Linked DNA regions of Homo sapiens: all the other regions are linked to region 2. Evidence: fine-mapped expression QTL. A gene starts in region 2. Each other region holds a variant in brackets. All regions are shown on one strand. Distances are between the middles of the regions.

What was found. PIP is the estimated chance that this variant, and not a neighbour inherited with it, causes the effect.
Region 1: its variant is fine-mapped to the expression of SLC35F2 in aorta (GTEx, PIP 0.99). The same link has a PIP of 0.9 or more in tibial artery.
Region 3: its variant is fine-mapped to the expression of SLC35F2 in whole blood (TOPMed, PIP above 0.99).
Region 4: its variant is fine-mapped to the expression of SLC35F2 in lung (GTEx, PIP 0.93).

Annotation. Positions count from the first base shown.
Region 1 is chr11:107,836,683-107,839,367 of GRCh38, forward strand. The region is part of intron 1 of SLC35F2 (solute carrier family 35 member F2); the gene reads right to left. Among named protein-coding and RNA genes, the nearest start is that of SLC35F2, 21 kb to the right of the region's middle. The variant T/C (reference allele first, on the strand shown) is at 1,266.
Region 2 is chr11:107,857,665-107,860,349 of GRCh38, forward strand. SLC35F2 (solute carrier family 35 member F2) reads right to left here and starts at 1,123. Exons shown (of 8, transcript NM_017515.5): 1 at 994-1,123. The coding sequence starts at 1,103. LOC124902746 (a long non-coding RNA gene) reads left to right here and starts at 1,566. Exons shown (of 2, transcript XR_007062876.1): 1 at 1,566-1,990; 2 at 2,082-2,685. RefSeq lists an enhancer at 649-718 and a silencer at 939-1,248.
Region 3 is chr11:107,790,824-107,793,508 of GRCh38, forward strand. SLC35F2 (solute carrier family 35 member F2) reads right to left here. Exons shown (of 8, transcript NM_017515.5): 8 at 168-1,977. The coding sequence ends at 1,792. Among named protein-coding and RNA genes, the nearest start is that of SLC35F2, 67 kb to the right of the region's middle. The variant C/G (reference allele first, on the strand shown) is at 1,554.
Region 4 is chr11:107,895,393-107,898,077 of GRCh38, forward strand. No RefSeq gene overlaps it. Among named protein-coding and RNA genes, the nearest start is that of RAB39A, 32 kb to the right of the region's middle. The variant G/A (reference allele first, on the strand shown) is at 1,639.

The sequences.
Region 1 (2,685 bases), 21 kb before region 2:
CTCCAGAAAAGAATGCAACACCTGCAACACTTTGATTTTTAGCCCGGGAAGATGAATGTTGGCTTTCTGACCTACAGAACAGTAAGATATTAAATTGGTGTTGTTTTAAACCACTAAATTGGTGGTAATTTGTTATGACAGCAATAGAAAACGAATATACAAAGTCAACAATGCATGTGATACTTTAAAACAACACTTGAATCATAATGTTATAACTATTTACATTCATCTCAGCGAATTTCCTTAGTAACAAAATAATCACATCAAATAAAGAGTCTATTAAAAAACTGCAGGCAAAGCTGATTGGGAGCTACCTTGGATTGAAACACTTTCATCGTTTGCCAGGGAGAAAATAAAACCAGGCCATCAAGCCAGAAACTGCTGAACTAGTTCCATGGAAACCAACAAAAATTGAAAGTATAAATCCAGTGATTTATTCTTATGCATTATGTCCCATGTGACTTAGTGAAGAACACAGGGGACACATTAGTACTGTCCCATCCCCTACATAATAAAAGACAGGGAAGTGCTAGCCACTGATGAGCTCTTACGTATATTAACATACTGCATGTTCATACAACACTATATATGTATCATTCTGGCAGCATTTAAGTCTTTTAACCAAGTTTATGTGCCAAATAAATAGCAGCACTAGATTAAAATCCAAATATGATTCCAAAGCCTGTGTTCTTTACATTCTGCCATGCTAAAAAACTGAAATAAGGCCAGGAGCAGCAGCTCATGCCTGTAATCCCAGCACTTTGGGAGGCCGAGGCAGGTGGATCACTTGAGGTCAGGAGTTCGAAACCAGCCTGGCCAACATGGAGAAGCCCTGTCTCTACTAAAAAAAAAAAAAAAAAAATTAGCTGGGCATGGTTGCACAGACCTGTAATCCCAGCTACTCGGGAGGCTGACGCAGGAGAATCAGTTGAACCTGGGAGGCAGAGGTAGCAGTGAGCTGGGATGGCACCACTGCACTCCAGCCTGGGCGACAGAGTGAGAGTTTGTCTCAAAATAAAAATAAAAAAGTAAATTAATTGTGGGAATAAAGATAGTAAGAAAGGCACCCACTACCAGAATGATGACCTCTAAATTCCTATGACATTTTGGTTGCAATCCTCTTTTTCCATTTTCTATATTCTGCCTGTAGTGTTTTATATGTTCCACTTGCTTTACTAGATTCTAAATGCAGACATCGTGTTATGGATTTTTTGCCACCCACCCACCCCCACCTTATACACACATAGTCTCACAATATCTAGTAA[T/C]AGTAATGGTAATAATAATTATGACATCTAACACTTATTGAGTGTATACTATATACCAAGCGCTAATTGATTTAATCCTCCCAACAATCCTGAGATGGGTACCATTATTACTGCTATTTACAGATAACAGAAATGGAGGCACAGAGATGTTAAGTAACTTGCCCAATATCACACAACTAGCAAATGGCAGAACCTGGAGACCAACCCAAGCAGTGTGGCTCCAGAGGCTGAGCTCATAACCACTGTTACACTGCAAGTACACTACTTGCATTTATTAGGGATTCATAAAACCTTTCTTACCTCAACAAAAGTGAAGTGGCTTAATAAAAATAAATGTGTGTGGGTGCCATACTAAGTACTTATATATGATGTTTCTTTTCGTTTCTTTTCTTTTGAGATGGAGTTTTGCTTTTGTCACCCAGGCTGGAGTACAACGGCGTACTCTCGGCTCACTGCAACCTCCACCTCCTGGGTTCAAGCGATTCTCCTGACTCAGCCTCCCGAGTAGCTGGGATTACAGGCGCCCGCCACCACGCCCAGCTAATTTTTGTATTTTTCGTAGAGATGGGGTTTCACCATGTTGGCCAGGCTGGTCTTGAACTCCTGACCTCAGGTGATCTGCCCATCTCGGCCTCCCAAAGTGCTGGGATTACAGGCGTGAGCCACTTTGCCCGGCCCTCTTTTTTTTTTTTTTTTTTTTTGAGACAGTCTTGCTCTGTCCCCCAGGCTGGAGTGCAGTGGCGCTATCTCATCTCACTGCAACCTCTGCCTCCTGGGTTCAAGCGATTCTCCTGCCTCAGCCTCCCAAGTAGCTGGGACTACAGGCGTGCACCTCCATGCCTGGCTTATTTTCATATTTTTAGTAGAGATGAGGTTTCGCCATATTGCCCAAGCTGGTCTCGAACTCCTGACCTCAGGTGATCTGCCCATCTCGGCCTCCCAAAGTGCTGGGATTACAGGCATGAGCCACCACACCTGGCCGATAAGTTTCTCTTAAATATCACAAAAACTCTTGTGAGATAGAGATTATTAGTACCATTATACTGTTGAAAAATAGTTGTAACAGTTTCAGCTGTTCAGAAGTAACTTTTCCAAGATCAGAAAATTAGTAAGTCTACATTTTTCCCGTTCCATACACTACTTCCCTGACAACAATAAAATATACCATATGTAATACTGACAATTATGATACCATACAGGGAGATCAATTGGTACAAATTACCCTGGCTCTGGCTGGACGCAGTGACTCACTCCTGTATTCCCAGCACTTTGGGAGGCCAAGATGTGGGGATCACTTGAGGTCAGGAGTTCAAGACCAGCCTGGCCAACATGGTGAAACCCCGTCTCTACTAAAAACATGAAAATTAGCTGGGCGTCATGGCACATGCTTGTAATCCCAGCTACTCAAGAGGCTGAGGTG
Region 2 (2,685 bases):
ATCGTTAAAGGGAAATTCGCTTTGTTAATATGAAAAAAAAATCAAATATCTGTTTCATGAGTTGTCAGTGGCCAACGCTGTTTAGACTACGGCTTGAACGCATCACCCCTTAAAGATCATCTTGTGGCCTTGGGCAAATTGCTTAGCCTTCTTTGTTTCTCCAGCGGCAAAGTGGATATAACAATAGTACCATCTCCTAAAGTGGTGAGGATTAGCTGATATTATCCATATAAATTGTTATGCACAGTACCTGACACAGAGCGAGTGCCCAATAAATGTCTTTCACTATTTAGGTCCTGGGTTCTCTCATTTCCAGAGTGCAAGTCCTCCAGCAACCACAGAAACGCTTTCTAGAGTCGCTGCCCACTCCTTAAAAACATTTGTCCCTACTTCGCACAGAGCATAGTGATACCACAAACAGGCTTCCCTGGACCCCAGCCCTGGGGGTGGCTATATCACCTCGCTCAGGCCCAGGAAGAGAGAGCCGGCTCTGGTCTCCCACCCGGCAGCAGCACAAAACTTAACCAGGATTTCTCACTTCGGTCAACTCTTGAATCACCGCGCCCAGTCTGGCTGGCTCGGCAGCAGATGGAATGAGGGCGCCGGCGCCAGGAAGTGGCGCTCACCCACCTGCCCAGCCCGAGGTGGGCACTCCTCCTTCACAGCATCCCCGGGGACCTCGTCCCTCCACCGCGGAACGCCCCAGAGGACCGACCTAATAGTGCCACAGGGTGGGTTTCCCCCCAAATCCTCCAAAATACATCGCCACGATTTCGAAACGGGAGCCGAGGGAGACGCACCAAGTGCTTCCCGACGCCAGGTGAAGCGCACCATACCTGGTGTGCGTGTTGAGCCCCGAACCGAAGTCCGTGCGGCCGCCACCTCTGCCTCCCTGCTGGGGGCCTCAGAGAGTGTGCTCCTTGTCCACGTGCGCGCAGGGCCCGCAGCCGCCCCCACGCCCCAGCGGAGCTGCAGCACGCCCCTTCCACTCACCAGGTGAAGAGTTTGCCTTTTATCCTGCGCAGCAGGCTGGAGAACTCGGCCGCCGCTCCCTCCGCGAGGGGCTCTGGGGCGCCGGGGCCCGCTGGCGAGTCTGCCTCCATCGGCGCCCTTGCGCGTCTCCGGCGCCCAAAACCCCCGAAGTGCCGGGTCCCGGAAGACGGGAGGCGGTGCCTGTGCGGCCGGCTGGGGCTCCGCTCTGGCCCTGCGCTCCCTCCCTCGCTCGCTTGCTCGCGTCCCTCTCGCTCCTCCGCTCGGCTCCTTCAGCGACCAATCATTAACTGTCAAGCCCTAAGGGCCAGACAATACATTTGCAGATTACAACCTGGCACCTCCAGGGTGGCAGGAGGAGAAAGGGCAATTTTTTTTTCGTCTTGGCAGCCGAGCCTTATTGTTGAGCGGCACCCAGTGTGCCTTCAGGTTTTTAGGGTTCCTTGTTTGAAATCACAAGATACAGTGACACGAGGTTATTGTAGGTGATTCCTAAGCTAAGAAGCGGTGAGTGAGCAGTGAGTTAGAAGCAGTGAGTGAGCCGGGACTCTCCTAACTGGAAGGACTGGCTGACCCCTCCTCTTCCCTCCCACTCTCCCTCCCTCTGGCTGATTTGTACAAAATCGCTTCATTAAAATAACTGAAGGCTGGCAGGGCGCGTTGGCTCACACCTGTAATCCCAACGCTTTGGGAGGCCGAGACGGGTGGATCACCTGAGGTCAGGAGTTCGAGACCAGACTGGGAAATATGGTGAAACCCCGTCTCTACTAAAAATACAAAAATTAGCCGGGCGTGGTGACGGGTGCCTGTAGTCCCAGCTACTCGAGAGGCTGAGGCAGGAGAATCGCTTGAACCCAGGAGGCGGCGGTTGTGAGCCAAGATCGCGCCTTTGCACTCCAGCCTGGGCAACAGAGGGAGACGTCGTCTTAAAAAAAAAAAAAAAAAAAAAAAAAACCTGAAGGCGCTTCAGGTCTGTGTCGCTTTTCCCTGCAAAACATGGGTAAGATCCTAAAAAGATCTTGGAAACGTGCCTTTGTGGCGTGGATGGAGGCGTGGCTCATTCCTCGCGGTGTGTTGGTTTTGTCTTTCAGTATTCAGTTGTCTCCGCCGTGCCAGGGAGAGAGACGGTGCCAACCCCCGGCGCTCGGCTTGGATGCCCTGCCCTGGCCACGCCTTCCGAGGCTTCCACGGGCTAAAGAGGGATTAAGAGACACTAAGCTGGGGTCGAAAAGTTCCTGTCACTGACCCCCTGCTTCCGGAAAGGAGGAGATCCAGAAAACAAAAGAAAAGGTGTTGGGACCTTTTATTTTTTCCTGGCCACCTGCTTTGGGGGTTGGGGTGGGTCAAAATAAACGTAGGTTCAAATAGACAGGCTGTGCAGACGAGCTGGCAATTCTGTAAGAGGAGTCTAAGAAAAAAAACAGCTTTCGAAAATGAAATATTACTTCAGGAACCCCAAGTTTAGCAGCTGCAGGAACCTCAAAAAAACCTTTGAAACTAAGAACGTGGTCATCCGTAGAGACTAATTAAGTATTATAATACAAGCATATTATGAAACAAGAGGACATTAGAAGCACATTTAAGATGTCACTTTTGTAAAGTAAACAACTCATTTAACCCTGCATATTGACAACGTTGAATTCTACCTGAGCCCTGTGCTCCTGGAAAGTAATGACAATTAAGAAACCTTCCTAG
Region 3 (2,685 bases), 67 kb before region 2:
GTTGCAGTGAGCTGAGATGGCACCACTGCACTCCAGCCTGGGCGACAGGACAAGACTCAAACAAAAAAAAAAGAAGAAAAAAAAATCCACAAGGGTTTTGAAGGACGGCTTTACTGGAAAAAAAATCCACAAGGGGAAATGGTTAATCAAAGAAACCACACAGTTGATGTATTTCCATGAATTCAAAGCCTTTTAATGATGTGAACACTTACTCCCCATTTCTTTTTTACATTGTTACAAAAAATTTACATACAGTTTTCTGAAAGTGGCATTTTGTTGGTTGTTATTATACTGATGACACATATTAACACTTTGTATTGAAGAAGTATCATAAAAATCACAGGGCATTACAGATTTTTGATAAGAAGTAGTAATAGCATTGTCTTTTAACAGCTGGAGGCTCCCAGGCATACTCTTTGGTGAGAAATGATTAATTTTATATTTTCATTTTGATGAGAATCTTTTCTTGTTTTTACCAGTTATAAAAACAAAGCTTTTTCTTTGTTGTGATACTGTGCACTAAGACTTAGTTTCTTGAGCTGATGCTAAATAAAATGAGATCAATAGGAATATTCCAGGAGGTCGTGAGAAGTTTTTAGAAAGGATGGCATCTACATATATATGGAGCTCTGAAAACTGTTGGAGAGTATGACCTGGGACTGAAACTGTGGAGCACATAGCCAGTGTCACAGGCTCCGAGAGCAGAGAGAGTTTGCTCTGGGACCTGGAATGAGTGATGGAGAAATGTTTTAAACAAACAAACAAACAGGCCAGGCACAGTGGTTCACATCTGTAATCCTAGCACTTTCGGAGGCCGAGGTGGGCAGATCGCTTTAGCTCAGGAATTTGAGATTAGCCTGGGCAACATGGCGAAACCCCATCTCTCTACAAAAACAAACAAAACAGGCCTGGCACGGTGGCTCAAGCCTGTAATCCCAGCACTTTGGGAGGTCGGGGCAGGCAGATCACTTGAGGTCGGGAGGTCAAGACCAGCCTGGGCAACATGGTGAAACCCCATGTCTACTAAAAATACAAAACTTAGCTGGGCGTGGGGCCACATGCTTTTGTAATCCCAGCTACTAACACTTGAATCCAGGAGGCAGAGGTTACAGTAAGCTGAGCTTGCACCACTGCACTCTAGACTCTGCATCTCAAACAAACAAAAAAACAATTGTGGGAAGGTTCCTAGGTTTACTGCACTCCAGTTTAATGCTTGTATAGTACTCACACTTATATCTCAAGACTTTTCAAGGGCTGACCCACCCGTTTTCTGCCACATGCAGTCAGCCCCAAGGCCTCATCTGTACCCAAAGGCCTGTGGACAATAACTGCCTCAGCAAAAAAAAAAAAAAAAAAAAACCTTGAAGCATCTGACAGAGGAAACGTACTCCAGAGCCACCGTGAGCTGCCCCTGTTCCTGACCACCAAGCCCAGCCTGGACAGCCTGCTTTCCCGCCCTGGCCTGAGGCTGGCTCAGTCCTGGATCTCTCCCCAGTCCTGCTTTCCCACTGGTGCCTCTAAGACCCCAGTGTGGAGTCTGCACCTCATCTCCT[C/G]AACACGAACAGATATTGGTCCTCAAACACAGAAACACACTCTTAGCTTGGTTTCTGCTCTATTTTGGTATTTCTACTTTTGAACTTTGTTCAGTGTTCCTTTCTAAAACCTAACCACTGGATCCAACCCAGGGTTGTAGAGTGTCCATTCTGAGTCTGCTATTTCCCCAAGTGTCCCCTCAGCAGGCAGCAGGCTCTGCTTTATCCTGGTGGGGGATGGGTGCGCCATCTTCTCCAGCTACAAGACAGCAGAGTGGGTCTCCTGGAGGTTCTCCTCCAGCTTCAGCCCCAGGTTGTCAATCCCAATGCTGGTGACTGGAGGCACGCTGCTTTCAGCCGGCTCGGCCGTGCGAGTAGGGGTGGAGCAGTACAGGATAAACCCCACCATGATGACAGTGAAGGACAGGATGTAGAGTCCTGAAAACTAGAAGGGAAGAACAGGCAGTGAATTGTGCCCCTCACATACACATCTTTGCTGCTGGCTTTTGCCAACTGTGCTTCGAGGATTACCCTCTCATAATCTTTTTATTTTCTTTCTTTCTTTCTTTCTTTCTTTTTAAGACAGGGTCTCGCTCTGTGGCCCAGGCTGGAGTGCAGTGGCACAATCTCGGCTCACTGCAACCTCCACCTCCCAGGCTCCAGTGATCCTCCCGCCTCAACCTCCAGAGTAGCTGACACCACAGGCACTCACCACCACACCCGGCCAATTTTTGTGTTTTCTGTAGAGACGGGGTTTTTCCATGTTGCCCAGGATGGTCTCGAACACCTGAGCTCAAGCAATCCGCCCGCCTCAGGCTCCCAAAGTGCGGGGGATTACAGGCGTGGGCCGCCATGCCTGGCCTCATGATCTTTTTTCTGAAAGTTACCTAAGGAGATGCTAATGCACAAAACCTTCCCATGTATGCTGGTGAATGATGGGACTCTGCCAACAGCACCCGGCACATAAGCCACCTGGATCCTTGGATCTTTAGGAGAAATGGACCTTTGCTTTTCTCTGTCATAATCCAGCTACACCCCACTCTGCATATAGTCCCACTTAGTGGAGAAAATAAAAGGTCATCATGGATACCACAGAGAGCCCCATTCAGACCCTAGACACTGCTTACAATATTGGTATGAAGCAGAGGAACGT
Region 4 (2,685 bases), 38 kb after region 2:
ATGATGGGAGTGAGACTCTGTCTCAAAAAAAAGAAAAAGGAAAAGAAAAAAAAGAGGTTAATATTCAAACCAAAAGGCTGTATGGTAAAATAGCATGAATTTAGGAGTCAAGCAAACTTAGACTCAGATAGAACATTGAGAGGGTTACATAAGTGCACATATGTATTACATATGCACATCATAATAAGCGCTTAATGTTGTTAAATAATTAGTTAACAAAGTTCTGACCTCAGATGTGCATGGACAGCAGAGGAAGCCATACATACAAATCGCCAATTAAAATAAAGTTAAATAATGCAATAATAAAAATACTTATTATTATTACTATATTAAGTGCTTACCATGTATCAAATATTATCTCCATTTATAGAACAGGAAACTGGGGCTTAAAGAGGTCATATAACGGTGGACGGTGAGCAGGAAAAAAAAAAATTTAAGAAAAAAATTTATGGCTGGGCTTGGCGGCTCACGCCTGTGATCCCAGCACTTTGGGAGGCCGAGGTGGGTGGATCACTAAGTCAGGAGTTCAAGACCAGCCTGGCCAAGATGGTGAAACCAGGTCTCTACTAAAAATACAAAAATTGCCGAGCGCGGTGACTCAAGCCTGTAATCCCAGCACTTTGGGAGGCCAAGGTGAGTGGATCATGAGGTCAGGAGATGGAGACCATCCTGGCTAACACGGTGAAACCCCGTCTCTACTAAAAATACAAAAATTAGCCGGGCGTGGTGGTGGGCGCCTATAGTCCCAGTTACTCTGGAGGCTGAGGCAGGAGAATGGCAGGTGAACCCAGGAGGCGGAGGAGCTTGCAGTGAGCCGAGATCATGCCACTGGCCTCCAGCCTGGGCAACAGAGCCAGCCTCTGTCTCAAAAAAAAAAAAAAACAAAAAAACAAAAATTAGCTAGACATGGTGGCAGGTGCCTGTAATCCCAGCTACTCGGGAGGCTGAGGCAGAGAATTGCTTGAACCCGGGAGGCGGAGGTTGCAGTGAGCCAAGATTGCACCACTGCATTCCAGCCTGAGCAACAGAGTGAGACTGTCTCAAAAAAAAAAGGAAAAAAAAAGAAAAAAATTTACCTAGTTAATAAGTGATAGATTGAAACCCACATTTGCTAACTCCAGAGTCTGGGCTCTTAAATGCAGACATGTATGGTCTCCAGATAGAGTTGAATAGAAGGTGCTTTGGAAGTAGAAAAGAAGAATCTCTTGGCCAGGTGCAGTGGCTCACGCCTGTAATCCCAGACTTTGGAAGCCTGAGGTGGATGGATCATTTGAGGCCAGGATTTCAAGACCAGCCTGGCCAATATGGTGAAATCCCATCTCTACTAAAAATACAAAAATTAGCCAAGCGTGATGGCACATACCTGTAATCCCAGCTACTGGACAGGCTGAGGCATGAGAATTGCTTGAACCCAGAAGGCAGAGTTTGCAATGAGCTGAGATCGTGACACCTCACTCCAGCCTGGGCGACAGAGTGAGACTCTGTCTCAAAAAAAGAAGAAAGAGAAGGAGATGGAGAAGAAGCTCTTGAGGCTGAGTGGCAAGAGACAGTATAGAGTGAGTGAAAGGGGATCAAGAATGACTTTATTGACAAGATGGCAAAAGCAGCTCCTTAAAAAGTAGGAATTTGGGGCTGGGC[G/A]CGGTGGCTCACACCTGTAATCCCAGCACTTTGGGAGGCCAAGGCAAGTGGATCACCTGAGGTCAGGAGTTCAAGACCAGCCTGACCAATGTGGTGAAACCCCGTCTCTACTAAAAATACAACAATTAGCCGGGTGTGGTGGCAGGTGCCTGTAATCCCAGCTACTCAGGAGGCTGAGACAGAAGAATTGCTTGAATGCAGAAGGTGGAGCTTGCAGTGAGCCAAGATCGTGCCACTGTACTCCAGCCTGGGCAACAGAGTGAGACTCTGTCTCAAAATAAAATAAAATAAAATAAAATAGAATAAAAGAAAATAAAGGTAGGAATTTGGTAGACAGCCAAGGAGATAGAAAGGACATTACAGGCAAAAAGGAGAGGAACTTCAAACACATGGGATATGGCTGGCTCACAGAGGGCACATGGAGATGCAGTGAAAGAAGAGGTCATAGAGGTCGCAGGCACATGCCATAAAGCACTTGATGCCTCCTGAGGAGCTGCAGCACCTGGAAGCATGGGAATGCCACCATCATTCTGTCACTAATGTGTGTTATACAAAGGAGGGGGCAGAAACACTAGTTAGGAGGCAATTGTAATAGTCCAGGCAAAAGATGATGAGAGCCTGAGTTAAGAATGAAGTGAAGGGGACACGGTTGAACATATGTAGGAAATAGAATCAACACGGTTTAGTGCTGACTGGATGCCATGGGTAGAGAGGATGGAGGCATCTAGGCTAAGTCCCTGGCTTCTGACTAAGGCAACTGCATGAAGGATGAATTATTCCTTTTAAAGACTGTAGGGACCAGGTGCAGTGGCTCACACCTGTAATCCCAGCACTTTGGGAGGCCGAGGTGGACGGATTACTTGAGGTCAGGAGTTAGAAACAAGCCTGGCCAACATGGTGAAACCCCATCTCTACTAAAAATACAAAAATTAGCTGGGTGTGGTGGCGTGCACCTGTAATCCCAACTACTTGGGAGGCTGAGGTAAGAGAATGGCTTGAACCCAGGAGACAGAGGTTGCAGCGAGCCAAGTTCGCGCCACTGCACTC